Homo sapiens: one gene and its partners. The protein of the gene in region 1 interacts with the protein of each later gene in a biochemical or structural test. Each region holds a gene or a part of one and is shown in the gene's direction. Other genes may lie near its edges.

The links.
Region 2: the proteins of HNF1B (region 1) and PAX2 form a complex in vitro, tested with the Homo sapiens proteins (one study listed by BioGRID).
Region 3: the proteins of HNF1B (region 1) and SOX17 form a complex in vitro, tested with the Homo sapiens proteins (one study listed by BioGRID).
Region 4: the proteins of HNF1B (region 1) and PAX7 form a complex in vitro, tested with the Homo sapiens proteins (one study listed by BioGRID).

Annotation. Positions count from the first base shown.
Region 1 is NC_000017.11:37,742,056-37,749,298, reverse strand, and holds the start of HNF1B (hepatocyte nuclear factor 1-beta), read left to right. Parts: upstream 1-4,239; 5' UTR 4,240-4,414; coding exon 4,415-4,758; intron 4,759-7,243. UniProt on the Homo sapiens protein: Transcription factor that binds to the inverted palindrome 5'-GTTAATNATTAAC-3'. Binds to the FPC element in the cAMP regulatory unit of the PLAU gene. Transcriptional activity is increased by coactivator PCBD1.
Region 2 is NC_000010.11:100,741,469-100,748,596, forward strand, and holds the start of PAX2 (paired box protein Pax-2), read left to right. Parts: upstream 1-4,113; 5' UTR 4,114-4,724; coding exon of another isoform or gene 4,725-4,792; coding exon 4,793-4,835; intron 4,836-5,546; coding exon of another isoform or gene 5,547-5,719; exon of another isoform or gene 5,720-5,969; intron 5,970-7,128. UniProt on the Homo sapiens protein: Transcription factor that may have a role in kidney cell differentiation. Has a critical role in the development of the urogenital tract, the eyes, and the CNS.
Region 3 is NC_000008.11:54,453,673-54,460,950, forward strand, and holds SOX17 (transcription factor SOX-17), read left to right. Parts: upstream 1-4,262; 5' UTR 4,263-4,466; coding exon 4,467-4,773; intron 4,774-5,385; coding exon 5,386-6,323; 3' UTR 6,324-7,220; downstream 7,221-7,278. UniProt on the Homo sapiens protein: Acts as a transcription regulator that binds target promoter DNA and bends the DNA. Binds to the sequences 5'-AACAAT-'3 or 5'-AACAAAG-3'. Modulates transcriptional regulation via WNT3A. Inhibits Wnt signaling. Promotes degradation of activated CTNNB1.
Region 4 is NC_000001.11:18,731,840-18,738,860, forward strand, and holds part of PAX7 (paired box protein Pax-7), read left to right. Parts: intron 1-3,792; coding exon 3,793-4,039; coding exon of another isoform or gene 4,040-4,200; exon of another isoform or gene 4,201-4,299; intron 4,300-7,021. UniProt on the Homo sapiens protein: Transcription factor that is involved in the regulation of muscle stem cells proliferation, playing a role in myogenesis and muscle regeneration.

The DNA of each region.
Region 1 (7,243 bases):
GCACTGAGGAGTAAGACATGAGAAGATGCCTGCCCCTCATAGGGTTTGCTCTCTGTGGTATATTTTTTCGTGGCTAGTCAAGGCTTCATGTCCACTACTACACAGAGGTCTGGCCTGAGCTCTTGGCCCATCTGCCCGAAGGCCTGCAAGTAGACACCCTAATAATTTAAGACCTTTTAGGAATTTCAAATTATAAAAAAAAGTTGGAGGACCTAAATGGTTATCCAGACCAATAGCCATTTTTCAAAGGTAGAATCAGAGACCCAGAGAAGGTGCTCACCAAAACTTTTGGGGAGATGAATCACCCAGAAAGAGGTTTTGTAGCCAGAAGAAGAACCTCAGGCTCTTTCCAGACCCTGATGTCTAGAATGTTCTCCAGGTTGCAACACTGCTCTCTAACAAGAAGGCCCCTGACCTCCTGCAGAACAGGTTAGGATGGTATTTATGTTTTACTCTAGAGATGATTTTATTTTGAGGCCTTCTAGATACTCTGTGAACCAATGAGAGAGGCTGGGAGAGTGGAGTGGCAGGGGTGGAAATGACCAGAATCTCTTCTGTAAACAAAGAAGTGCAACCGTGAAAAGTAGGGGAAAGATTGCATGCACAAATCAGAAAAGAAATATCGCTTGTGCTGCTAAGTTCCAGGGGAGATGAGTTCACAGAAGCCACATTTGCCAATCTGTGGAATGACCAGCATGGTGCTCAGAACACCTTCATAGAATGATGAGTCAACTGGATTTCAACTTATTTTATACCAGGGATTGCACGTCCTATAAAAAACAAGAACAACAAACCTTGGGATATGAACTGCAAATTCATCTAATTTGAGCAGATGAAACTGATATGGTCTCTTCAAATTCAGTAGCTCTTAAAAACATGCTGGGACTATAAGAGCCTAAAGACATCAGTTGCCTCAGTTCTCAGCATGTTATCAAGATGTGCCTCTTCTTTCTAAATACGTGAGAGCCCACCATATTCTAGGAACCTGTGGTTACTAACTCACCTAATCTTCACACCGGCACAGTAGAGTGTCATTATCATTTTGCACTGAGGAAACTGAGGATCAGAAAGATTATGTAACATGCCAAAAGTCACACAGCAGGTGAAGCAGATCTTGGGTTCAAGTTTAGTTCTGTTTGACTACTCCAAACCCTGCCCTCTATTCTCTGCTGGGTATCCTCCACCTCTCCCCCACAGAATCCCTCTTTCAACTTCTCATCCCTCAAAACAATGACAGCTAGAGACCCTCCTCTTTCATCCTAAAACCCTGCTCAAAAGTTCTGAGCCCCAACCTCAACCCTTCCATTAATTTGCTGAGGTGGCTACAAGCAACCTGAGACTCTCCCATATCTTATTTTTCCATCTTTAAAATGGAGTTATTATATCAGTCCATCACGACTTTATTCTGTGTGAAGCATAAACAGATGTTATTTCAATCCTACTCCGTCTTCCTCTATTTGGGGGAAGTTTAACTGAAGAGTTTTACAAGATAGCTCACTTAACATTATGAACTGCATTCTGAAAGACTATCTGCTGGTCTACTTTACACAGCTCTTTTTAAACTTCCATATGAAGGGACTGGTGAATCTGTTTGAAGATCTATAGTACAGAACAATTACTTGATAAGCGCTTATATTGCACAAAGTGGCATATTACAAGGTAGGACTAGGAAGGAGCATTACAGGAAGTTGCTAGATATGAATAGCCAGATTACCTGGAAAACATACCTGGACACTCATAGGAAGTTTGTCCTATCCTCTGTGTGAAATTGCCTGCACATTCACATAGTTAGCTGGGGTGTGGGGAAGAATGGGTTTGCTGACACCTGAATTTTGAGAGAGAATGAGGCTTGGGAATCAGATGGGGCACACAGCAGCTGCAACTGCCAATCAAAGTTTTGTTGTTACAACAGAAGTGATTGCTGTTTTTTAAATGGGTTTTCCCAGCTTAACACAGAAACTGATCTTCATTACACTTGATGCTTCTATCCTGATAGCGAGTGAGAGACAGACGAAGAGATTGTTCTTCAGGGACATTTACTCTGAACACTTCATTATCCTTCTTGAGGCAAGCTGGGTAGGCAGAGAATGTTCTTCCATTGGGCAGAATTATGAGAAGCAAAGATTTGCACCTATTACAACAAACTAGAGGGAAAGAAGGTGAAATGAAAAGCCAACATTTTCATGAAGTTATGACTCCCTGTGGCACCCTGAGGAGTAATGGGTGTCTGGAGGCTGAAGGATGGAGAGGTTCCTGAATTTGGGATTTGCTTGTCTCCGGGAAAGAGGGACTGAGATCAGTGTAAACTTTCCTCAGGCTACACGCACACAACCATCCCGCTTCCTTCTGGCTCTCAGCACAAGTGGCCCAGGCACCTGTAGCAGACCCTGTATTTAAGAGGCATCCTAGCTCCTTAACAGCCTGACTTGATAAATTACACCATCAGCCCTTGCACACCTAGGAGATTAGATCCTGCCCCTAGGCAGATGAGAGCTGCTAGACTCTTCCTCCTCCTGCTGAAATTCCTCTCTATCCCTAACCTAACCTTACTTCCTCCTAGATATCTTTCAAGGGTGGGAGAGGAAGGAAAATGTGCTTAGAAACTCCTTTGCAATTTTTCTGCTGATTCTGAAACCCTAGTCCCCCAATCCCTCCAACCCCAGCACTGTATCACCAATTCTGAATACCCTAAGTTTCCAGAGTAACTCAGTTTTACTACTGGGAACTGGCTTCCCGTCTTCTCAGACCAGAAAGTGTTGAACTTTATTATTAGACCAAGCGGTTGCACAAGTGGCCTCAGTCAATATACACAACCCCCAAAAAAAGGTTATCAGTGGTATCCTCTTTTTGCAGATGAGGAAACTGAGGCTCCCAGAAGGGAAGCGTTATGCTCCTCCCCAGAAGCTTTAGGTCTGTGTGTGGTGGAAGCAAAGAAGCCCCTTTCCCTGTTCTTCTACAGGTCAGGTCCTAGCTTGCCGGTTTGGGCGCGCTTCCGCCGCCCTCCCCTCCTGCCCGTCACCAGGGGGGAAGCAGGTGAAACTCCAATAGTGCTGCAAGGCCTATGGCTTCCTACCTGGCCCAGGCCAGAGTGGGAAAAAAAACATCTTTCCCTCAGTAGCTCTGTCGACACCTTCTGTACTAGGAGTGCAAGACTTCTGCCACTGCTGCAGTGACCTCGTCTACAGAGCTCGTCCCCGGCCCAGGGAACCACAGATGTTCTGGAACTACGAATAAACCAGAAATGAGTGGGCCGGGGGGACCCTCGGCTGCAAGTGTCCACCCAGCTGCAGGTCAAGCTTTGCTTTCACTGCCTCACCATCCTAGTGCCTCACCATCCTAGTGCCTCACCATCCTAGTGCCTCACCATTCTGCCTCACCATCCTCCCCCAAGGCGGAGGCGCCTTGACATCCGGGTTTAAACAGGAGAGTGAGGAGCCCCAGGGGTCCAGCTCCCCAGTGGCGTGGCCAGGCTGGGCGCCGGTGCAGCCCAGCTGCTGGGGGAGCTTCACTTTGGCTACTCCCTCTACCCATAAAGTAGTCTCTTTCCAAGAGTTCTCCCGGACTCCTTCACCCTCGCCTACGCTCTCTGGCGGGCAGTTCTGCAAACCCAAACCGCCAGACCAGGCCAGGGAGGTTCTGGGGCCTGGAGGTAGTAACCGAGGTAGAAATAAATGGAGTCCCTCCAGGGCATGCTCACCACACCTAACGCTGCCTCACCTCCCCCGTGGCCTCGGCGCCCCTTCCTAAGTGGTCAGTTTCTCTTCCGCCCTGCGGGCTCTCCTGGCCCACCACCTGCGTCGGCCGGGACGCATCCAGGGTCTCTACTCTTCGCTTCCTCCTGCGTCCCCTTCTTCCACGAGCACCCCAGCTTCCTCTGGCTCTCACCTGAACCCCGAAGCGTAGTGTCTTCTCTCTGGACTAAAGCGGAACTGAGAACCGGTGGAAAAGCCCCGCGCCTAGGCTGCAAGGCACTGGCTTAACAAGTCCAAAGGTTAGGTGAAGTTTGGCTGATAAGCAGAACCAGTAAAAGAAGGTCTCTAGCCCCCCAGCGTGAGTACAATGGACCCTGGCAAAGCCCCGCTCCCGGCCCAGGTCTTCTGCTCTCCAGGTCTGCCCCTCCGGCTCTCCCTCTCTCCGGGTTTCCCCCTCCCCACCATCATTTGCATCCAGCCGAAAGCTGGGCCCTTCCCACTAATTTGCATATCTTATATGGCCTAATGGTGGCGATCATGGCAAGTTAGAAGTTTTCTGACTCCTTTCGGAGGAGCCTCCGGGACCCCGGGGAGTAACAGGTGTCTGGAGGCTGAAGGGTGGAGGGGTTCCTGGATTTGGGGTTTGCTTGTGAAACTCCCCTCCACCCTCCTCTCTCGCACCCACCCACCCCCTCACCCCCTTCTTTTTCCGTCCTTGGAAAATGGTGTCCAAGCTCACGTCGCTCCAGCAAGAACTCCTGAGCGCCCTGCTGAGCTCCGGGGTCACCAAGGAGGTGCTGGTTCAGGCCTTGGAGGAGTTGCTGCCATCCCCGAACTTCGGGGTGAAGCTGGAGACGCTGCCCCTGTCCCCTGGCAGCGGGGCCGAGCCCGACACCAAGCCGGTCTTCCATACTCTCACCAACGGCCACGCCAAGGGCCGCTTGTCCGGCGACGAGGGCTCCGAGGACGGCGACGACTATGACACACCTCCCATCCTCAAGGAGCTGCAGGCGCTCAACACCGAGGAGGCGGCGGAGCAGCGGGCGGAGGTGGACCGGATGCTCAGGTAGGCGCAGAGCGAGGTGGAGGGGACCCACCCGAACCCCTGGAGCCCCGGCCCCGGGCCTGAGTGACACTGCGCCCGACCACACTCGCCAAGCCCGTTTCCCACCAGAGAAGTCCCCCGGGGGGCGCTCTGCTTCTCTCCCAACACCCGGACCCTTCCCAATCCCTTAGCGGGACGACCCTGCGGCCCACCGGGCTTCTTCTCCCCAGGCCCAGGCCAGCGTCCGAGACCCAAGGGCTTTTCCCCGCGGGGCTGGGGCTGGGCCGGGGAGAACTGGAGCTGTGGAGCCCTTTGCCGGGAGGTTTGCCCACGCGACTGAAGGTGCGAGTGGGTGCAGTGAAACCGCTGCGACTTCCCGGGAGCAGAGCCTCGCGCCGCTGCAAGCCCCAGGCCGCGCATTTTTCCTGCGCCCTGCCTCGGGTCTGGAAAGCCGCATGTCGGCCTCGGACACATTGACCTGCATGATGACCTGCAGTTCTTTGCCGAAGGACAGGCGGCATCCGGAGCCGGGATCTGGGAGGCGAGTTCCCTGGTGGGCACTCTTGTTAGCCGCGCCCATGCAAGGCCCGGAATTATCCGGGATCCCCAACGCGGGTTTAGATTTGCAAAGGGCATGTTCCATGCAGGGTCCGGGTGGACACGCGCGGGGCCAAAGAAACCAAGCGCGGTGGTGTGGGGGCGAACGCGTCTCAGACCTCAGTTCGCAGAGGATCTGGTCTCAGTCTGAGAAAGGAGGGCGTTTCCAGACCTCGCTGCCCACCCCCGGCCTCTCCCCGGGAGTTCAGGCCGGCTGGCAGTGTATCCCCAGGGCCGGGATCGTTTGTGGGTCCTCCCCGACCGCCCTAGACTTTGACAGCTGGTTACTAATTATCTAAGGAGCCGAGCGGTTCCCTGAGACAGCACGTCGCTCCCGGGCCACTCCGCTTTAGGACAGAGCCCATCGCGTGGCTTCGGACACTGAAGCGCTGCGATTTCGGGGCTGAGCCTTGGCCGCACGTCCGCAGCGGCGGTTTGGGGTGGGATATGACCTTGCATTTGAATTTGTGCTCCGAGGGCCTGGCGGTTTGCCCTCTAGCCAAAACAATCAGGGGAACTTGTAGATTTTTTTTCCCCAAACACACTTTGGTATAATTCATAGGTTTGAGGTTCTTCCCTCGTCGCTCTCCCGCCCGGAGGTGATTTCTCCCCTACCGGGAGAGAACTCCTGCAAGAGAGTTCCGCGAGGCGGAAGGTGTGAGTCGCGGAGGCTAAGAGGGGTCGAGAGAGTGGCCCCTAGGAGCGGCTGGGGCGCCAGGGCTGCCGGGGAGGTCGCTCAGGACCTGGCGGATGAACCAGGCTCCCACCGCCGGCCACCGGGGGCCACAGGGCCTAGGCCCTCCCACTCGGCCGCAGGCGCCCGCTTTCTAGCGCGGCGCTGGAAGGACCTGGGGCGCCCCTCCGCACCCAGCCCCGCGCCGGGCTGGCCGCAGCTGAGACGTAACATAAACTGCAGCACGTGGAGTTGGGGTGTTATTAATTTATTTCTATAAATCATCAACAGAAAGATACACAAAGAGCCGTGATTAGGTTGAAAAGAGAGGCGGGTTATTCATTGGTGAAGTTGTAAACGCGGCTTAGAGGGGGGAAGGAGATCAAAACGCGGGCGCGGGGCTGCTCGCCGCTCCCAGCGCGCACCCAGCCAGGCGCCCCGTGCGGCCCTGCGGCCTCACCGCTCTGGCGCGGGACGCGGGCTCTGTGAGCGCCCGAGCCGCCCGCGGAGCCCCCGGGTCGCCGACACCCGCAGGCCCGGCCGGCGGAGAGCCAGGCCCGGCCCAGGGTCCTTAGACCCCAGCCCCGCTCTTCCCTCCCCAAAGCCCCAGGCCCCAGCAGGGCAGGGAGAGGGACTGGGGAGCCGGAGACCCTCGCCGAGTTGGAGACGCGGGACAGACCTGGAGGCTTTTTTCTCCCGTCCCGAGCGGGTGCTGCCTTTCCTCCCCCGCTCCCGGGAGCGCCGGACTTGATTAAAGTAATTTTTCAAGAAATCGCTAGCGGTTCCTAGGTCACTGCACAGGGGGCTCCCAAGCCTCGGGCACACGCACTCCCTTCTTTTGCCCACCGTGTTCCCTTAAGACGAAAAGCAAAGAGAAAGAAAAGTCGCGTTTTGGAGTTCCCGGAGTTCTAGTAAACCTCCTGGAAGAGAAAGGCAGGGGAGGAAGGTCGGGACTGCGCGCTTCCCGGTCCCCGGCTCCCGGCCGGAGCTGGCCTTTCTCGCGGCCTCGAGGCAGGTGCGCCGGGGGCGTCTAGAAAGTGGGCTGCATTCTAAGAAGCCGAAGTTGGGCTCCTTAACGAACGCGCTGCGGACTGCGCTGGAGTCCAGGCTTCTCTGCTCGTGGGCAGCAAAGTCATTGTTTGAGAAGGAGCGTGCGGGACGGACCCTGCGGGCGCCGCGGCCGGCGTTTGACACCTGCGCTTGGGACACAATGGCCGCAGGCCCTCTTCGGGACCG
Region 2 (7,128 bases), on another chromosome or scaffold:
GGGCGGGGAGAGAATGGGGAGGAGGAGGGGGAAAGGCCGGGCAGGAGCCGGTCAGGCCTTTCTGCGGAAGGGGCTGGGGTGTAAGTTTCGGCTCCCTGGGATCTGACAGCCGAGGGTATGCGCCCTGGGGTGCGCCGGGACCCAGAGGGCGAGTGAGCCTCGGTTGGTCGGCTCTGGAGTTCGGTTGTCAGAAGAACTTTTATTTTTCTTTTTGGTGGTGACTTCTAAAAGTGGGAATAATCCAGAAATGAAGCTCAGCTGCGGAGCTGCAGCTCTGTTCTCCCTCTCTCCCCTCCCTTTCTGCTTCTCTTCCCTTCGGACTACTTTTCTCCCCTTGGTTCTAAACAGCTTTTTCCCCTCTGAACTTTAATGCATTTAATTTGGTCCGCGCTGTGGGGAGCATTTCCTGGGGAGATGCATTTAATTTCGGAATTTCTAATCCCCTCCCTCAGACCCCGGTCCTAGCTCCCCTAGCCGCTCCCCGGGAAGTGGAAGGAGGAAGGCAGGTCCCGGCCACGGGGGAGGGGCGCGGCTGGGATGCTCCCGCGGCCCCCTCCGTCTCACCAAGGCTCAGCCGCCTTCCCAAGCTACTGGAGGCCGGGCGCCTGGGCCCCGGGTCAGGGCCCTGCAGGAGGAGGAGAGGCAACCACGCTTCTGCCTTTTCTCGCCTGGGCAGAAAACGCTGGGCCAGGGAACTGGAAACCGGAAAACAGGAGAAAGGGTTTCTGGAAGGCAGCGGGAGCGGGTGGCAGCGGGGCAGCGGGCAGTGGACTAGGTCTACACCGGCACTTCACTTTTGCACAACATGCCCAGAAACGCATTTGAGAGCCCTGGAGTCGCGCTTGGCTTGGCTTGGGGCGCCGGTGCGTGGGTACACTCGAGGTGCGGGGTGCCTATCCGCCACCCCGACACCTACACCCAGACAGAGCAGGCGCGGCCCAGCCAGAAAACCAGGCCGGCAGTAGCTCGGCCTGGAGGGCGGAGGCAAGGTTGGGGGCCGCCAGGCGCCTGGGCAAGCCTGGCAGGGAAGGGAGCCGAGAAGGCAAAGGAGCCGAGATCCACAAGGAAGATTTATTGGGCAGATCAGATGCACAGAGGCGGCTAATGAAGCAAATCCCGAGATGGGTATCAGAGCAACTCCCCAAAAGTTTATTTGCCTTTAAATTTCCGCAGGGAGGCGGGCTCCTTGTTTGAAGTGTAAATGCCCCTAGGTTGGGGGGTGGAAGGGCCGCTTTGAAAACACCAGAGAGAAAAGGTTCATTTAGAGGCGGACGGGAAAAGCAACCAACCCTGACAGGTCGGAGCCCGGGTAGTGTTTGGGGTTGGGTTGTTTTCTTTCTTTCTCTTTCTTTTCCCCTTTCCTCTTCTTTCTTCCTTTTTTTTTTTTTTTTTTTTTTTTTTTTTTTTTTTTTTTGCTTTCTTGCTTCCCCCCACCCCTCTACTAGACTGTATAGAAGAAAGAGAACAGAAAAGGGGGAGTCAGAGGAGCGGCCAGTGACTGGATGAAGGCCAGCCCTTCATCCTGGAGCCCCAGGAGAAGGCAGAGCTTTGGAGAAAAGGGGTTCCTAATCTCCAGGGAGCATTACTCTTTGACTCTCTAGACCCAGGAATGGGCTGGAGCTAATGGGGAAGCGGCCAGGAGCCGGCCTGGCGGAAGAGTGAGTGTCCAGCTAGTGCAGTGCTGGGGAGACGATCCCAGGAGCAGGGGGGACTCTCAGGGGCTACCTGGGAATGGGACTATCAGAAGGGTCTTTACTCCTCAGAAGGTGCATGTGAAGGACAGGTGTGTGAGGACAACTTCCAGCACACTTGGCGCATTAAGTCCCCTTCTCTACAAAATGGAAAATCCTTCTCGCCCAACATGTGAAAATGCTTGTTGTGGGCACCCACATTTCATGGTACTTGTAACATAGGGACATGTCTAGCTGGTTCTAGAAAAATCTGTGTCTGTGTGGAAGGGGGGGGGTTTACTCACAGCTTTCTTCCTTCAATAGTTCACACACCCCGAGACAAATTCCTGGATGACCAACTTGGAGAGACCTGGGGCAAAGGTTACTTTAGTTCTGAGCTCCTCTAAATAAGGACCCTTTCTCAACGTTCCTTTCACCCCAGTTCTGGGTTAATTACTTCCCAGAGGGGAAAGCCAAGGCTGTGCTAGCTAATACCACCTGAGATCCCTTGCACTCTGGCCTGGGAGCTGTTACTTTTCGGCTGCCCGAACTGTTTTCCTTCTTCGGTCCCTACACGAAGTTAGTGCGTGTTCGTGGGGTTGTGAGGCCAAAGCAAACCCGGGAGCGCCATCTGCAGGCCTCAAGAGGAAGAGACTGACCTTAGAGGCTAGGCCCTGCGTCTTCAACCTCTAGCCCAAGGGAACCAACCTGCCTAGCCACCCAAGGGAAGTGGGATAGGGGCTGGGAGGGGCAGGCGGTGAGGAGTGTTTTCCTCCCAGACTTTACCCCGCAGGTGGATTAAGCTTATTGGGCTCTGGAGGATACAGGAGGGAGGGCAAATGCCAGGATCCCAGCGGACCCAGGCCCCACAGGAGTGAGAGGCTCAGAACCTCGTCCCGCTGAGCCTGGCCTGAGCTCCTCCTGAGGAATAAGGGCATCCCAAAAACCCGGGTACAAGACGCCCAGTAGTAGTAGTTAGGCTGAGTCAGGCAGGTGCATCTCTCCCCATGGTATCTGCCGCCCAGGCTCCGGCCAGAGGGAGGGGAGCGCGAGTCCGCCGCGCTTCCGCGGGGCGCCCGGAGCTGCAGACGGGGGCTGGAGGAATCTCGGATTCGGGCTGCAAGAGCGCTGCGCAAGCTTCGCCGAGCCGCCCTTTCGCAGACCCAGGGAAGCGGGGGGAGGGAGCGAAGGAGGGAGAGAGAGTTAAAACATCAGCTGAAGTGCCAAGATGATTTATGAGACGAGGGAAAATATTTCATGAAGATCTCCCGGATATTCTGTACTTAACCAGTTAGGAGACAAAGGGCTTCTTCTGCCTGGTGCGTGCGAGCGGACCCCAGCGAGCAAGGGAGCTAGTGCCAGAGAGAGCTGCGGAGGCTCCGGCAGGAGTGGGGACGTCCCCGTGGTTGCGCCTCCTGCGCTCGCCCCGGATCCACCGAGCTAGCAGCGGGCGGCGCTCAGCCGCGTCCGCAGCCTCCTCTTCTCCCCAGCCGGGGAGAGCCAGCCTCGTCTCCCACATCCTCTGCCGCCAGCGACCTGCAGCTCCGCACTGTTTCCCTCCCCTGTACCCCCTTCCCAGTCACCCGAGGGTTCAGAAACCAAGTCCCCCGGCTCTCCCGCCATCCGCTGGGTCCCACCGAGGCAGGTGGGTACTCGCCGGAGGTCTTCAGCTCGATTCTGAACCAAGCGTTCTGGACTGCCCAGACCCGGTGGGCAAGGGGACTGGGGAGGCCCTGCGCACAGTCGCGTGGAACGGGAGGGGACAAGACAAACTGCTGGACACTTTTCCGTGGAATGAGAAGTGGGGGGTGCGTGGGTGGGAAGGTACCTCCGGAGGGAAAGGCCAAAGGGAAGGACCAGAAAGAGAGGAAGGAAGAGCCGGGAAGGAACGGAAGGGAACTCAGAGCCGAGGGTGGTGGGGTTGGGGCTAGGGATGCGCACTGGGCCCGGGGCCGCGCGGCCCAGGCGGGCACTGGCCAGTGGATGGCAGGGCTGGGCGAGTTAGAACTGAGAGCCCGGCTTCACAGCGCAGCGCGCTCCGAGGCCCTCTGTCGTTACCTGAATATTCATTAGACTGACCGCTCTTTATCCTTATCTAGCGTTTATCTTATCGGCGAGTTTCGTTTCTCAGTGTAGTTTTAATCCCGGGCTCCCATTCCCCCTCCCCCGGTCCGCTCCCCTCCCTCCCTCTTCCTTCGCCGGCTGCTCCCTCCCTCCCTCCCTCCCATTTCTCCCTCCCCTGCCCTCCCCTAGCCGGCACCGGAGTGACAGGCTCGGGGCCCTCCTCGCCGAAGCTCGGGGCTCCAGCGCTGGCGAATCACAGAGTGGTGGAATCTATTGCCTTTGTCTGACAAGTCATCCATCTCCCGGCGCGGGGAGGGGGAGGAGGTCTGGAGGGGGCTTTGCAGCTTTTAGAGAGACACACACCGGGAGCCGAGGCTCCAGTCTCCGGCCGAGTCTTCTCGCAGCCGCAACCCACCTGGGGCCAGCCCAGAGCTGCCAGCGCCGCTCGGCTCCCTCCCTCCCTCCCGGCCCTTCGGCCGCGGCGGCGTGCGCCTGCCTTTTCCGGGGGCGGGGGCCTGGCCCGCGCGCTCCCCTCCCGCAGGCGCCACCTCGGACATCCCCGGGATTGCTACTTCTCTGCCAACTTCGCCAACTCGCCAGCACTTGGAGAGGCCCGGCTCCCCTCCCGGCGCCCTCTGACCGCCCCCGCCCCGCGCGCTCTCCGACCACCGCCTCTCGGATGACCAGGTTCCAGGGGAGCTGAGCGAGTCGCCTCCCCCGCCCAGCTTCAGCCCTGGCTGCAGCTGCAGCGCGAGCCATGCGCCCCCAGTGCACCCCGGCCCGGCCCACCGCCCCGGGGCCATTCTGCTGACCGCCCAGCCCCGAGCCCCGACAGTGGCAAGTTGCGGCTACTGCAGTTGCAAGCTCCGGCCAACCCGGAGGAGCCCCAGCGGGGAGCGCAGTGCTGCGCCCCCCGCCCCCGCGCGCCCCGCAGCAGCCGGGCGTTCACTCATCCTCCCTCCCCCACCGTCCCTCCCTTTTCTCCTCAAGTCCTGAAGTTGAGTTTGAGAGGCGACACGGCGGCGGCGGCCGCGCTGCTCCCGCTCCTCTGCCTCCCCATGGATATGCACTGCAAAGCAGACCCCTTCTCCGCGATGCACCGTGAGTACCGGCGCCCGGCTCCTGTCCCGGCTCGGGGCTCTCCGTCCCAACCCTGTCCAGTCCCAGCGTGGCCCCGGCCCCTCGCGCTCAGGTCCCATCTTGGAGGCCTCCCTGGCTTCTGGTCCCTCTTTTCGTTCTTTCTCTCCCTCGCCCGGTGTTTCTAATGCCTCCAGTTTCTCTCCTGCCTTCTGTCACCCATTCTTACCTCTCTGTCTGCCTGCCTTCCTACCTTCCCTGATCCCTATCACCTGCCTTTGCTCTTTCTATCCGCTCCTTCTTAGGTCATGGGATCCACGGCCTCGGAGCCCTGGTTCCAGCCACCCTCTCCCTAGTCAGCCTCTTGCCCTGGGCTGGGGGGCAAATTAGCAGGCAGTTTTCAGGGTGTTGTTTTGTTGTTTTCTCTGTCTTTTCTCTCTTTCTCTCTTCCTCTGTTTGCCTCCCTCTCCTGTCTCCCCACATCTTTATCTTTCTCAAACTTAAGAGTCGTGGGGTCCAGGAGACTCCAAGAGTATTCAGCCTCAGTGTCAGGACAATTGGGCAGAAGAGTGTGGGGGTGGGGTGCCCCCTTCTGACCCTCATCTCTCAGCATCTCCAGGCCCTTCCAGCCCAGCATAGGCTTCTTGTGGGTTGGTTTGAAATATTTTCTTCCTCTTCCTTTCTTTCCCACCCCCCTTCCCTTGCCTTCCCTTCCCTTCACATTGGGAATCCCAGGTTGTCAAGACACGATGGTCATCTTTCCCTGCCTCTGCCTGGGGGATGCTCTAAAAACAAAGAGGGGCTCCGAGAAGAAATCGAAGTCAGGGAGAGAGCCAGCAGCGCAGCCTTCCAGGTGGGCCCCCGGCAGAGTGCAGCTCTGCTCTCAGCTCTGGAGGCTCCTTGCCTAGACTGCCGACTCCCCATTGAGGATCACGCAGCCAGCAACCTGGCCAGGGGGTCAGCAAAGAGCAAAAAATGAGGGGGAAAGAACAAAAGGAAAGCAAATGCCAAAGCTGAGGAGAAAGGAAAAGAGAAATCCAAACACGGGAAAGGAAATTAAAGAAAGAAAGTTGACATGATGTTACAGAAGAAAAGGGAGAAGGGAGAAAAAAATAGAGAAAAGAGGGAATTATTTTAATAAAATTTGAATTTATGCCATGTCTTTAGCTTGAAAAACTATTCTGAGATTTTTTTTGCAGGCTTTTTTTTTTAAAAGCTAAAATTCTAAATAGAAAACTCCTCCCTATCTGCAGATTAATAATTAAGGATAATTTGTAACTTTTCACAAGGAAACTTTAGACCCGGCTTGGACCTGTGTTTAGGACAAGAGAGCCGAGGAGGGAGAGCTGTGTTTTTCGCTAATCATATATTTAGCGTTGCGGGGGTTGGGGGGGGCGTTTAAAAATACTTCTGGGATAAAATATATTTTTCTAAGTAATTTCCAAGCGCAGGAAAGCCGCGCCGAGGGCATCAGGCCTCCGCGGGTCTCGGCGAGCGGGCCGGAAAGCCTCGGTCCTTTTCGGGAGGAGTGGAACCGGGTCCACACGCCGTTTTCGCCCAGCCAGCCTGCCTCGCGGCCCGCTGCCACAGCTCTCGTTCTCCTTTTTTGCGGATTCCGCCGGGGGTCCGCCGAGTCCTGGCTGCCCGCGGGCAGCCACTTTGAAACCCAAAGGTTTCTGCACGGCCAAGCAGAGGTCGGAGGGAGAGAGCCGCAGCGCGGGCCCGCGGGCCGGTGGACTGGTGGGTGAGACACCGCAGCCCGAGTCGGTGCTGGCGGCCGTGGCGCATTCCAGGCCCGACTCAGCGCCGACTCGCTGCAGTCCCCCAGCCCTGGACTCCCGCCGTGTCCCCTTCCCATCCCCACCCCTTAGACTGGGGCTGAGGGGCCGGGCCCTGAGCCCGGGGAGGCTGAATTATTCATCTTTAATCTGCCCGCAGCTGCCGCCTTTTCATACCGGTAACGCGAGTTCTCCCGGGGCCTAAATTATTGATGGTCGGGGTTTGGAGGGAGGGGAGGGTGAGAAGTGGGGCTAGAGATAGGGAGATTAACGGGGTGGGCAAGGGGGTAAAAGAAGGGGCTTCAGTCTCTCCCAGCAACGCGATCAGAGGTCTTTCCCCAGGGTTTCACCGAGCTTGCTCTAGGTACCCCCCGAGAAAGGGAGGGGAGAGAAATGAGGGGGGCACAGATGTCCCCGCTTTCTCCGAAACTCGCGTGAGGCTAGCGGGGCAGGGGCTGCAGCTTGCCAGTCCGGGCCGACCCGACTCGGCCGCTAGAAGTCTCTGCGCTTGGATTGCTCAGTACCTGCGGCTACGGGTT
Region 3 (7,278 bases), on another chromosome or scaffold:
CGGGAACGGGGACACGGTCTAAGAGTCGCCCGCTGCCAGGGAGGGGTTGGGGGGCAGCCTCGAGGGGACACCGCGGAACCAGGGAGGGATGCGCATGGAGGGAGTGGGAGAAGGCGTCCAAGTAAAATGCATGCTCCGGTCATCGGGGGTAACGCGCGTCCCCAAATCCCCTCTCGCTGTCGCCCTTTTTTTCAGTCCTCACGGGGAGAGGCCGGCGCAGCAGTGGAGCACCGCAGGGGCTGGATCGGACCCGCACTGCAGCATCTGCAGGGCTCCGACCTGGTGCGGGCCTCCAAGGCAGGGGGCGCGCGGCGGCACAGCCGGTGGCCGCGATTTTCCGGGCCACTCCTTCCCCCCTTACACTCCCCTCCCGCCCGCGACCTTCGACCTCCATCCTGGACCCACGGGGTACTGGCCCGGGGACAAGGAGGAGACGTTAAAGGTATCAAGGGGCGCGGCACCGCCGCCTAGACGGCGCCGGGACGCGAGGTGCGAATCGGCGGCGTCCGGCTGCGCTGCCCTACCTGGGAGGTGCGGGACCCTCGGCCGCGCTCCACCGCCGCGCGCCACCTCGTGCTGGCCTCCGGGAGGCAGCCGCCCGCGCACGATTTATAAATGCAAAGGCCTTATTGTTGTTCTTTGTTCAGGGATACCATTGTCTAGTCATCCACGGGCAGCCTGGAGTTTTCCCAGGGTTTGCGGCGCGCACTCCCCTCCCCCGCCCCCACAGACTTGCTCTCCAGCGCCAACCCGGATCTGCCTAGGTGCCCACGGGTCCTTCCCGATCGACTTGAGTGTCCTTCCTCCAGCCCCTGCTTTCCCAGCATCGAAAACACAAAAGCCTGCCGGAAATCACCCAGCCTTTGCCTGGTCACTCAGGGGCCCACGGATAAGCGTGGCTCTGATTCCTCCAGGTCAGCCCCACGGTTCGCCACCTACCCGAGTTAATTTCTGCGCCCGCTGACCAAAGGCCCCAACTGGCAACGGGCACAGCTTCTTGGTGCGCTAGTCGCTTCCTTGCCCAGCCTTTAGAGCCTCGGGTCCGGCCCAAGGACCCGGGGACGTGAGCGCAATTAGTAGCCAGGAGCCCTGCGACCCTGGACCGTGCAGTGCTAACGCACCCGAACGGCTATGCGAGCGGTGTACTCGGCTCTTACTTGTGAAAGTTGTTTCCCCCAACCCCCTGCGTAAATCTCTTGTGTTGAGAAAAGCAAGGCTTGCAGGAAGCCACTCCGGATGTTTGCTGCTTTACATGTGGCATCTGTGGCTGGCTCTGATAACGTCCCGGGGCACCACGTATTAAAGTGAAGAGACTGAAATAGAAGGCTCCACACACCGCGCGCGGGTCAGCGACGTCGCCGCCCTCCACACTGCCCCCCGAAATATAAGACAAGCGAATGATCAGAAGAAATGAGATCTAACTAGGTCACAGTATGTAAAAGGGACTAGTCTTGGAAAGCCACCACAATTCCTCCCCTGTAAATTTGTAAACTGTGAATTTATGATCTCAGGGAGGGTGTTATAAGAAGTAGGGGGAGGGGCGTCAAAATCTGAAGCTCCTACTCCAACCTATGATTGTGTACTTTCACCTGATTTCTCTTACCAGACCAAGATCAGTCCCCAAGAACAAGGGCAAATAAAAATAGGGAAACCCGGCCGGGCGCGGTGGCTCACGACGGTAATCCCAGCACTTTGGGAGACCAAGGCGGGCGGATCACCTGAGGTCAGGAGTTTGAGACCAGCCTGACCAATATGATGAAACCCCGTCTCTACTAAAAATACAAAAATTAGCTAGGCGTGGTGGCATGCGTCTGTAATCCCAGCTACTCGGGAGGCTGAGACAGGAGAATCGCTTGAATCGGGGAGGCGGAGGTTGCAGCGAGCCGAGATCGCGCCATTGCACTCCAGCCTGGGCAACAAGAGGGAAACTCTGTCTCAATAAATGAATAAGTAAATAAATCAATAAAATATGGAAACCCCACGTTTTCTTCCCCATCATTTTCTCCACCTTCTTGGCTCCCAAGCGCACCTCTCCCAATAATGAGCTGGGTGAGGAAGAGCATGAGGATGAAGAAAGTGTACAGGGCTAAATCTGTATATGTACATTTTTTGGACTCACACCTGGATTGTATTTCCTGTAGTGTTTTTTAAGGAATTAGTCAAACAGACTAGACAGATAAAAATGAATTCTGGACCAGATATTGTTTTTTAATTTTCAATGTTTATTCTAGGAAAACTCCTTAGCTCATAAAAGATTTAGTGTTAAGAGAAAATTCTGCTTTGAGAGCTTTGAAAAATATTTATTATTATCCAGAAAAGTTAGAAAAGATCTCAAAAAAAAAAAAAAAAAAAACAGCAAAAAACAAGGTACTACGGGGTTAATTTGTAGATTGCTCTCTCTCCTCCTATAGTTTTGTTGCTTATTTAATCATTTGCAATGTGCTTTTGCTTTATACTGAAGCCCATTTTTTTTTCAGAAAAAATAAAGCTTTAAAAGTACATCATCATTTAAATTTGTCTAAAATCAACCGCTTTCAAAACTACCAACTAGAAGTAACACCTCTCTATGATTTCTTTATGCAGATTTAATTTTTTTTCTTGTTTGAATCTTAGAGACCCAGGAACTAGAAACACTTTCTTAACTTGTCCCCTAGCCAAGGCTTCACAGATACTTGCAGAATTAAAGATAAGTTGGCTTAAAACAATTGTGTAAGAGTTCTTTTGAGAAAAAGCAATGCCAGAGAAACTGAAGGCCAGGAGTTTGCAAAAGTTTTGTATTTTTATGGATGCCACTAATAAGCAAGACTGGACAGACGGTCTTGTTGTTGTAGTATCACACTCAAAGCAGCAGCATTTTACTTCTCAGATTCCAGGTGTAAGCTCTACTTTTTTATCACGCCTTCATAATAAAGAAAATCTGTTCTGGAGATTCGTATATTGATTTCTTTGCAAAGTTATCTCTAATTATGCAGGAATGGCTGTTAGTTGCCCTCAAAAACCAACACAAATACACAAACACAACAGCCTGGCTTAGTGATTATTAAGAGCTGCAAGTCTGAAGGCGGACTGCTGGGTGTGAATTCCACCTTCTCAACGCTGTAGTCTCCAGCAAGTTCCTTAACTTCTCTGCCTCCGTTTCCTTTCCTGTAAGATAGAGTCTACCTCAGGGTTAATATGAGGATATGCTTCTTTGCTAATGCTGGAGGGCGCTAGGAATAGCAGTGGCAGGCTGTGTCATTTCTCAGTGTTGTATAACGGCTTGTTTTAAAAGTCCCACTGAAAACTTTTTTTTTTTCCAGATCGAAACACAAGTTTAATAGTCATTCAGATTTCATTCCAGTCTAAAGAAACTTATAGAAATCTAATTATCTGCCAGAATAACCGCTTTAAACTGACTGTAAGAACCACAGTTACTTTGCAGCTAAAACAGATTGTTCTCTTCCCCCAAACAAACTCGGACATTTAGACAAATATTGCTGCTGTCTTTACATTTTAGAAATCAGTATTAAGGCTCACCTGTTACTGAACACATACGAGAAACAGTTTTGTTATGCGTATCTTATATACATCATGTATACATTTTCGTACTTTCACATGATGTGTATAATAAGATACACATAAAAACTGGTTGGCTTGTCATGAGTAAATGCTTTATTCTTTAGAGTGAAGGAATATTGGATACAGAACGTCGTTCCATATTTAATCTTGCTTTAGAAAATTAGGATTTATCTTGGACACAGCATTTTGAATATAACACAGGCAAGTTGAGTCCTGGGGGAAAAATTGTATTTTTAAATTTATTATCAACGGTGTCTTTCGCATTTGAGAAAACACATTTGAAGATGCCCATGCAGTTCCTTGGAAGTAAACTAGGTCACCCACCACTGAAACACCCTCGGCTTCTGCAAAAAGATGTGCTTTAAAGAGAATAGAATGGACGCTCGGTATGTTCATCTAAACGACCTTGGGCAAGTACGTCGATTCCAAGGTACAATCAGCCCTCCCAGACGGCTTTTCGAGTCTCCCTAACCCCGGTGGGAGAGGACGCGGCGCCAGAGCCCAGCTCCGGCTAGTTTTCCCGGGGGCAGGTGTAGCCTTGGGCGCGGGGCCGGGGGAGGGGCAAGGGGCGGGCGTGGGGTTGGACTGGGACGTGGGACTCGGACCACGGCCTGGGCGTGGGCCTAACGACGCGGGACCGGCCCGCCCTCGCCGCTCCATTGGCCACATCTGTGCAGAAAAGGCCCCGCGGCCCAGGGGCGCCCGCAGTGTCACTAGGCCGGCTGGGGGCCCTGGGTACGCTGTAGACCAGACCGCGACAGGCCAGAACACGGGCGGCGGCTTCGGGCCGGGAGACCCGCGCAGCCCTCGGGGCATCTCAGTGCCTCACTCCCCACCCCCTCCCCCGGGTCGGGGGAGGCGGCGCGTCCGGCGGAGGGTTGAGGGGAGCGGGGCAGGCCTGGAGCGCCATGAGCAGCCCGGATGCGGGATACGCCAGTGACGACCAGAGCCAGACCCAGAGCGCGCTGCCCGCGGTGATGGCCGGGCTGGGCCCCTGCCCCTGGGCCGAGTCGCTGAGCCCCATCGGGGACATGAAGGTGAAGGGCGAGGCGCCGGCGAACAGCGGAGCACCGGCCGGGGCCGCGGGCCGAGCCAAGGGCGAGTCCCGTATCCGGCGGCCGATGAACGCTTTCATGGTGTGGGCTAAGGACGAGCGCAAGCGGCTGGCGCAGCAGAATCCAGACCTGCACAACGCCGAGTTGAGCAAGATGCTGGGTGAGTCCGAGTCGCAGACCCAGGCGGCCGGGCGCGCTGGCGCGAATCGCTAGGCCGATTTCTTAAACCCCAAACTGTTCTTTGCGAGCCTGACGCCCAAAACCAGGGGTGTGTAGCGGCCACGTCCTTTCTTAAGGCTCTGGGTTCCCTTCCCGCTTCCCGCCCTCCGACCCTCCAAAGCAGCTTTCCGCCTTGCTCTCCGGCTCCCGGATTCCCCAGGTGGCCGGGGGCGCGGGTCCAACGGCTCTGGGAAGGCGACTTCCCGGCACCTCCGGGCGGCGCGAGAGCACCCTTGGCCCTGAACTGGGCCGGTTGTGTCCATCCCTCGACCCCTTCCCTAGTTAGGTGTCCTTTTCTGTTTTTCGAACGACCGGGTGATGGGTGAGCGGAAAGCCGCTTCCAGGAGACCAAAAGAAAGGGGTGCCTTTAGAGGACGGGTGTTCCCCAAGGGCTCGGACTCAGGAGTCCCAGATCTCCCTCTTTAACTTCACCCCGGTTGCGCAATTCAAAGTCTGAGGGGGGAGGTGCGTCCAGGTGGGGCCAGGTGGGGCCTGGAGCGGGAGCGCAGCCGATAAGCCCTGCGCCCCTCTCCCCCTTCCTTCCACTGTGCAGGCAAGTCGTGGAAGGCGCTGACGCTGGCGGAGAAGCGGCCCTTCGTGGAGGAGGCAGAGCGGCTGCGCGTGCAGCACATGCAGGACCACCCCAACTACAAGTACCGGCCGCGGCGGCGCAAGCAGGTGAAGCGGCTGAAGCGGGTGGAGGGCGGCTTCCTGCACGGCCTGGCTGAGCCGCAGGCGGCCGCGCTGGGCCCCGAGGGCGGCCGCGTGGCCATGGACGGCCTGGGCCTCCAGTTCCCCGAGCAGGGCTTCCCCGCCGGCCCGCCGCTGCTGCCTCCGCACATGGGCGGCCACTACCGCGACTGCCAGAGTCTGGGCGCGCCTCCGCTCGACGGCTACCCGTTGCCCACGCCCGACACGTCCCCGCTGGACGGCGTGGACCCCGACCCGGCTTTCTTCGCCGCCCCGATGCCCGGGGACTGCCCGGCGGCCGGCACCTACAGCTACGCGCAGGTCTCGGACTACGCTGGCCCCCCGGAGCCTCCCGCCGGTCCCATGCACCCCCGACTCGGCCCAGAGCCCGCGGGTCCCTCGATTCCGGGCCTCCTGGCGCCACCCAGCGCCCTTCACGTGTACTACGGCGCGATGGGCTCGCCCGGGGCGGGCGGCGGGCGCGGCTTCCAGATGCAGCCGCAACACCAGCACCAGCACCAGCACCAGCACCACCCCCCGGGCCCCGGACAGCCGTCGCCCCCTCCGGAGGCACTGCCCTGCCGGGACGGCACGGACCCCAGTCAGCCCGCCGAGCTCCTCGGGGAGGTGGACCGCACGGAATTTGAACAGTATCTGCACTTCGTGTGCAAGCCTGAGATGGGCCTCCCCTACCAGGGGCATGACTCCGGTGTGAATCTCCCCGACAGCCACGGGGCCATTTCCTCGGTGGTGTCCGACGCCAGCTCCGCGGTATATTACTGCAACTATCCTGACGTGTGACAGGTCCCTGATCCGCCCCAGCCTGCAGGCCAGAAGCAGTGTTACACACTTCCTGGAGGAGCTAAGGAAATCCTCAGACTCCTGGGTTTTTGTTGTTGCTGTTGTTGTTTTTTAAAAGGTGTGTTGGCATATAATTTATGGTAATTTATTTTGTCTGCCACTTGAACAGTTTGGGGGGGTGAGGTTTCATTTAAAATTTGTTCAGAGATTTGTTTCCCATAGTTGGATTGTCAAAACCCTATTTCCAAGTTCAAGTTAACTAGCTTTGAATGTGTCCCAAAACAGCTTCCTCCATTTCCTGAAAGTTTATTGATCAAAGAAATGTTGTCCTGGGTGTGTTTTTTCAATCTTCTAAAAAATAAAATCTGGAATCCTGCTTTTTTGCTCTACTAGTACCTCTGTCACACTAGTCTTATCAAAAACCAGTTCTTAAGATCAATGTTAAGTTTATTAGTTAATGTAAATTTCTCATCCTCGAAAAGGGTGAACATAAATGCCTTTAAGGAGTATATCTAAAAATAAACATTAGGATATCTAAGTTTGATGTAATTGTTTCAGGAAGGAAAAAAGAAAAGCATTCTGGAATGAGCCTACTTCAAGTAATCTTAGTTTCTAAAACTAACAGTTAATATTTTCAATTCCAGTATATCACTTTAAGTAGAAGGGGATGTCCAAGTAATTTTGGTTTTCTAACTGTTGAATCATAAGCTTGACCTGCCCCCAGAGGCTTTTTGGATGTTTTTATCTGTGTTTTGCCATCTCTTTACACTCCTCGACATTCAGTTTACCTTAATCTTCACATTTTTACACCTTGGGAAGTGGCAAGCATCGCTGGGTTTAAGATAAAGGAGTCACAAAAACTAATCAAAATAAAATTTGCATTATGACAACTTTTAATACACTTTAGCATTTTATTTGATTGGTTTTTTTTTTTTTTGCTTTTAGATTTAATACA
Region 4 (7,021 bases), on another chromosome or scaffold:
CTGTTTCTGAGCTGTCAGTTCACAGCCCAGGGTCCAAGGCCTCTTGAGCCACCGGGCACCACCCAAGCCCCTTCTGAGAAAGGACTGCACAAGCCCTCGCAGCTCCTGGAATTTTTACTCTCCGCCTTCACCTTCTTGCTATTTCCTAAACCTGCTGGGTGTATCTCGTGATTCAGCCCCCTCAGCCCCAGGGACCTCAGGGCCTTTGCACTTGCTGACTTCTCTGCCTGGAAAGCTCCCCTGCCTCGTCTTCTCAGGGCTGTTCTTTCTGGTCTTGCTGGATATCACATCTTTGGGGAGGTCTTGCCTGACTGCCCCACATAGCCCCTTATTTTTCCTCCGTAGCATTTATCAGTATCAGAAATTATATTATTTGTTCACTTGTTTATTGTCAGCTTCGTTCCTTAGGCCGACAGCTCCAGGAGGACATGGGATTGGCATTTTTCATGGCTGTGTCCCCAGTGCCTGGCTTAGTGTCTGGCATATAATAGGTGCTCAGTAAATGTTTGTTAAAGGAATACACATGAATTCAGCAGAGGTTTTCTGAGCTCAGAATATGTAGCAAGTACCACGTAGGCACTGGGACTACAGAGACGGACAAAATGCAGTTCCATCCTGCTCTCAAAGAGCTCATAGTCCAGCCCTAGCTCCAGACTGGCACATAGTAGCACCCTATGAAATGCTTGTTGGACGAATACGTGAATGAATGAAGGATATCTTCAAGAAATACCACATTGTTTGGGATAGCTGGAAGGTAAAGTGCAGGGTAGAAAGGGGTGAAAGGAGTTGGGACAGGCAGCTAGAGGTCTGGTCACTAGGAGCTTTTGCTGAGAGATAATGGGGAGCCATTCATAATTCTTGAGTGATACTGTCAGATTGGGCAGCAGTTCTGTGCAGGTCTCTGTCTTAGAGGATGAGTAGTGGGACTACACATAGCTCTCAGCCTGTCTCAAAACATCCTCGTCCTCTTCCTAACCATCCCCCGACTCCTCCCCTCCCATCATCCCATCCGGGCTTGGCATCCTGGGGATGGGCAGGAGGGAAGGATCAAACTGGAGTCTCACGGGAGCTGACAAACCCTCCCAGTAGTCTCCCAGCCCCCGTCAACTGTCCTTCTGAAAGAAGTGATCTGGAGCCTGAGTGTTTTTTCTGAGCCTCTAAGTCTATTCTTGGAGTCCAGGCCTCCTTTGAGCAGGGAGCAGGGTCCGTGTTTGTGTTGGGTGAGAAAGGAGATGGGTGGGAAAAGGTCTAGACTGAGAACCCCAGGGTAGACTCAGATTCCTGAGTCTGCCCTGGGACCTTGCTCTCCTCCCCAAGCCCCTTAGCACATTCTTCAAGCTAAGGAGATCCCATCTTGACAGACAGAAAGCAACAAACACAGTCCCACAGTGTCAGACACCCTCACATACCACTACCCCAGCACCCTACTGTTGACCCGACCACAACAAAGATCTCAGAAGCACATTCAACACAGAGCGAGTTAGGGAGACCTCAGCTCCCTAAAGTAGTGCTAGTGTCCAAAGGACTCTAGACCCTCCCCAGCCCAGCCTCCTGCCTCCCAGGCAGACTTTCTCTCTCCTTCTTGCAAACCCATTCCAGTGTGTCTTTGCCATCTTGATGAGGTTGACACACCCCTATGTCCCACCCAAATCTCCCCAGCTGTGTGGAGATGAAGACTAGCCAGTTGACGGTCTCAGCTGGTCTGAGCTCTGAGCTCTGGTTCTGGGGTGAGAGTGACAGAGGGAAAAGGTGGAGGAGGGGAGACCCCCAGGGCTGAGGGCATGGGGGAAAGAACCAGGCAGAGGCTCTGCTCAAGACATTCCAGAGGACCTAAGCTTCCCCCAGAGCAAGGGACCCCACCCCACTCACCCCACATTAGCTGCCCAGGAAACAAACTACTGCTGGTCCTTGGAGTGAGACCCTCTAAAGTGATCAGATGCCTCAACCTCATTCATTCTTGAGAGTTGAACTTGACATTTTGCAGGTGAGCCAGGGTCAGGCGAACTGAGCCCTGGGCCTGCTGTGAGATCTAGGGAAGCCACGGCCCCTTTGCGGGCCTCAGTTTTTCATCTGGGAAATGGGCATCCTAGCTTTGCCCCACAAATCTCTGTGGGCTTTTGGGTTGGGAGAGTCAAATGAGTTAACTGCTCAGGGATACTCCCGAGGTTACACAGCTGGTAAACGGAGGAGCTCGCTGTCTGTCCCTAGCCCGAGGAATCCATCAGTGCCCTCGACTGTGGCCAGGCCTCAATGCCTGTGGCACAAGCCAATAATAAAGGCAAAGGTAAAAATCTTCAGAAGGTGTCTAGTCGGCAAAACGATCACTGCTCGAATGCCCGCAGCCTGCTTTCTTACCCTGTAAGGGGAGTCAGGGAACTCAACTGTGTGCCCAGCAGGGATTGCCACGTGGTTCTCCGTCTCGGTGCTGGGCAGATTATCAGCAAAGCCGTCCCCACCTCATACTCAGGGTCTTCCTCCCATAAAGGGCGGCATCACCAGGAGGTCATCAGGGGCCTGGGCCCTGCAGGTTAGGTTCACGAGGGCCTGCCTCTCCCTCCTACCCTCTCCCCTGCCCTCCTCTGAACTCACTGGGACACTGTGCCCTCTCTCTCCTGCCCTCTCCCCTGCTCTGCTCTGAACTGACTGGGACACTGTGCCCTCCCACTCTCCAGGAGCTCCTGCTGCACCACTCCCAGTCCCACCCCAGGAAAGCACTGCTTCTCCCCGTCCTCTTTCCTGGAGAGCTAGACAGCAGGTTCCACCTCCCCTAGATTTCCCAGACTGCCAAGGATGACTGGGTGCCCTCCTCTGTGTCCTTTGATAGATAAGATGCCTGTATCACTACTCCATGTCTCTATGATCTTTGCTAGTAGCTTCCCTCACCCGACCCAGACCCTTCCTCCTCCTCTCCCCCGACCGAGGGCAGGGACCATGGCTCTTTCTCCTCTGAAGTCTCAGAGCCTTCAGCTCTCAGCCTGGGGCCAGAGTCACCATCCATGCCTGTTTGTGGAGTAAACAAGTGAACATCCCAGTAAGTGAACACCTGGACCTCCATCCAGGTCCCCTAAGCTGAGCTTCTAGAGACAAGCCTCCCCTGGTAGTCTGTGTTGCCAGCACTGACAGTGAGTTCCTATTTGCGGAACCTGGCCAGGCAGGGAAGGAGGGGATGCTCACAGACCTCAGGAGCTGGTAGAATCAAAGGAAGGGGCCTGAGAGGCTCTTTGAAAGCATTGGCTGTGGGCTTCAGTGTCGAAGGGGCAGGAACCTCAGAGTCCGGAGGAGTGGCAGGCAGAGCAAGCCACACACAGTGACAGCAGACAGATCAAGAGTCCTGCTGTAATGTTTGTGTTAGAAGATGGGGCCATCCCAGTCTGATGGGGGAGGCACAGTTCTCTGAGCTTGGAGAACTCCCTGACTGATGGGAGAGGCCTCATTAGCCAGTTCGTTCATTCATGCATTCATTCATGCATTTATTCATTCAATAGACAGGCCCAGAGTGACCCTTAGGGCCAGACCCTGGAGCTAGAGAGGCGAGTAAGGCCCTGCTGAGTTCTCAGTGGAAGGAGGATCCCTGGGTCAGGACCCTCCTTCAAGAGAAACACCGAAGACCAGCAGCCATCCCATGCATGAGGGCACGCAAATCAGGTAAACTGAGGACCTCGAAGCTACAGAGACTTCAAGGGAACAACTCTGGCAAAGAGTGTTCCAGGGCCAGCCTGGCATTGTGCCCAGTGTGCTCGTGTCTCTGGGGTCTGTCCGGTGAGCCTGGCACTAATGGCCTTTTCCCCACAGGTGATGAGCATCTTGGGCAACCCCAGTGCGGTGCCCCCGCAGCCACAGGCTGACTTCTCCATCTCCCCGCTGCATGGCGGCCTGGACTCGGCCACCTCCATCTCAGCCAGCTGCAGCCAGCGGGCCGACTCCATCAAGCCAGGAGACAGCCTGCCCACCTCCCAGGCCTACTGCCCACCCACCTACAGCACCACCGGCTACAGCGTGGACCCCGTGGCCGGCTATCAGTACGGCCAGTACGGCCAGAGTGAGTGCCTGGTGCCCTGGGCGTCCCCCGTCCCCATTCCTTCTCCCACCCCCAGGGCCTCCTGCTTGTTTATGGAGAGCTACAAGGTGGTGTCAGGGTGGGGAATGTCCATTTCACAGATGGAAAAATTGAAGTCCAGCCAGATGGAACAGTTCACCTAAAATGACACTGAGTTGGGCAAAACCCAGGACATCTCCTGGCTAAGCCTCTGCTTCCGTACTATGGCTCCAACAGAAATAAAATACACAACACAAATATCACTTAACATTTCTAGTGGCCACATTTTAAAACATAAGAAGAAACAGGCCAGGCGTGGTGGCTCATGCCTGTAATCCCAGCACTTTGGAAGGCTGAGGCAAACGAATCACTTGAGCCCAGGAGTTCAAGACCAGCCTGGTCAACATGGTGAAACTCTGTCTCTACTAAAAATACAAAAATTAGCCAGGCATGGTGGCGCACACCTGTAATCCCAGCTACTCAAGTAGGTGAGGCACAAGAATCACTTGAACCCGGGAAGCGGAGGTTGCAGTGAGCCGAGATCACGCCACTGTACTCCAGCCTGTGTGACAGAGCAAGACTCTGTCTCAAAAAAAAAAAAAAAAAATCAAGGAGAAGAAACAATGGAATTATTTTTACTAACATTTTATTTAACCCAGTACATCCAAAAGATTATCATTTCAAAATGCAATTCATATATAATTATTGAGATATTTTACATTCTCTTCTTTATGCTATGTCTTTGACATCATGTGTGTGTTTTACACTTACAGCCCATTTTAATTCGGACACTGAGTTTTCAACAGAAATACTTGATCTGTATTTAAATTTCATATAGTTTGCAACTGAGAAAATATACTTACAAACCCAAAGTGTTCCAAATTGTAAGTTTTCCAACTACTAAATAACCCAATTGAAGATTGGTTTTTGACTTTAAATTAGTTCAAGTGAAATCGGCATTTGAAATTCTGTTTCCCAGTCGCACTAGCCACATTTCAAGTGCTCAGCAGCCATGTGCTGCTGGTGGCCACTGTGCTGGACAGCTCAGTGGGAGACCCTGCCCCTTCTGCCGCAGGGCATGGGAAAGCTGTGTTTCCAACTCTCTCCTCCACTCCAAACTCTGCAATGGTCTCATGCACCCATCCCAGCTGCTATCCCCTTTGTGCCTTGCCTTGAGGCAGGGACCGTGGATCCTCACACCAAAGGCTGGAAAACGCAGGCCTGGACACAGCCTCCACCGCCTGGCAAGGCCAGCAGCAGGGCAGGTCCAGATGGGACAGGGAGCCAGAGGTCATGGGTCACTTTCCTGCCCCACCGCCCTGCAAAGGCCTCACCTGCTGGTGTCAAACTAATCAGAAGGGCGTGTGGCAAGAGGGTGAGGCCCCCATCCCTGAGGGTGTCCTCTCCCCCAGCCCAGCCCTGGGCCAGCCTTTCTGACCTCTGCTTCCTGCCCACCCCCCCAAACCCACTCCTCTTCACGTGTCGTTGGCCTCCACTGCCAAATGAGGGCCACTGCCAAATGAGGGCCAGCTATGTCGGCCTCCACCTCCCAGCTGTGTTCACAACCCTTCCTGTGCATGTACATGTTTGCATATGTGTATGTACACATGTGTGTATGGGTGTTTGTGAGTACGTATGTTGGGACATGTTACAATTCTTGTGTGTGTGTGCATGTGATGCTTCTATTTCAGCACCCATGTGTTATTGCATGCATCTTTGCATATGCGCGAATACATGTATGTGTCAGTGGGCACATGTGAGCATATGTGTATATGACTTCACATGCGTGCACATAAATGAGCATATTGTGCATACATGATGTGCACATCTGTGTGTGTGAACACACATGTGCACACATATATGTAAGTATATGTATCTGCTTAAACATGTTTAAATGTGCATTCAAGTCTGTACATATGGTTGAGCGTGTCTTTATGTGTGCCTCCATGTTTGGCATAGGTATGCATATGTCAATATGTAGATAGGTATAATGAATATGTATGCGTGTGTATAGATGTATATGAGTGTGCAAACATGTGACTGTATGTACATGTGTATAGCCATGCATTGAGGCATGCACACATGCTTGAGTGTGTCTGTGATTGTGTGTTTGGAAGTACCTGTGTGTGGACACATATTCTGTGTGCAGTGTGTAAATAGGGGTGAGTGTATGAGTGTATGTTTGAGTATGTCATAGGTGTGGCTGTGTGTACATGTGTATGGATGTACATCTGGGTGTAGACATACACTGTGTCTGTGTGTATAACTGTGTGTGTGTGTGTGTGAATGTGTACGTGGGGGTCTGCATGTATATTTGAGAGCAGGGTGCACGCATGTGCATGGGAGAATTTCCAGAGGGTCCCAGGGTGACCTCCTGACCCAGCCCGTGTTCCTGGGCATGCAGCAGGACACACATGCTCTTGATAAATATTTTAGAGTGACCCCAGCGGCAGCGGCAGCCCCGGCCTGGGGCAGGCGTTAGTCACACCCAAGCTCGGTGCCCTGCTCCAGGGGCGCCTGCTCAATTCGGAAATAAAATTAACCCCAAAGTCAGCATGGGGGCAGCAGGGGAGGGGATCAAAAGGGAAGGGGCCTAGGAGGCGAGAAAGGAGGGTTTGTTCTCCTCTTGCTTGGACAAAGCCAGCCAGAGCAGCTTCCTCCTCCCCCACCACCCCCTACTCCATTCTTCTCTTTTCCATCCTCTCTTTCCACTCCCTTCTCCTCCTGTCACTCCCCTTCCAGCTCCACCCCTGCTGCCCTGGCTTCTCCAGGAATAGCTCAGAGCTCCTCTTGGCCACATTCTCCAGCCCTCCCCAAAGGGAGCCCAGCACAGACCCCAACTCACCCCACAGAGACTCTGGGCCCAAGCTGGGAGGGAAGGGCTGGAGGAAAAGCCCCCTCCTCTGCCCCCAATTAGTGCAGGCAGCCACACACTTGCCTCTCTGAGCCTCAGTCTTCCCATCTGTGAAATGGAGGCCACGAATT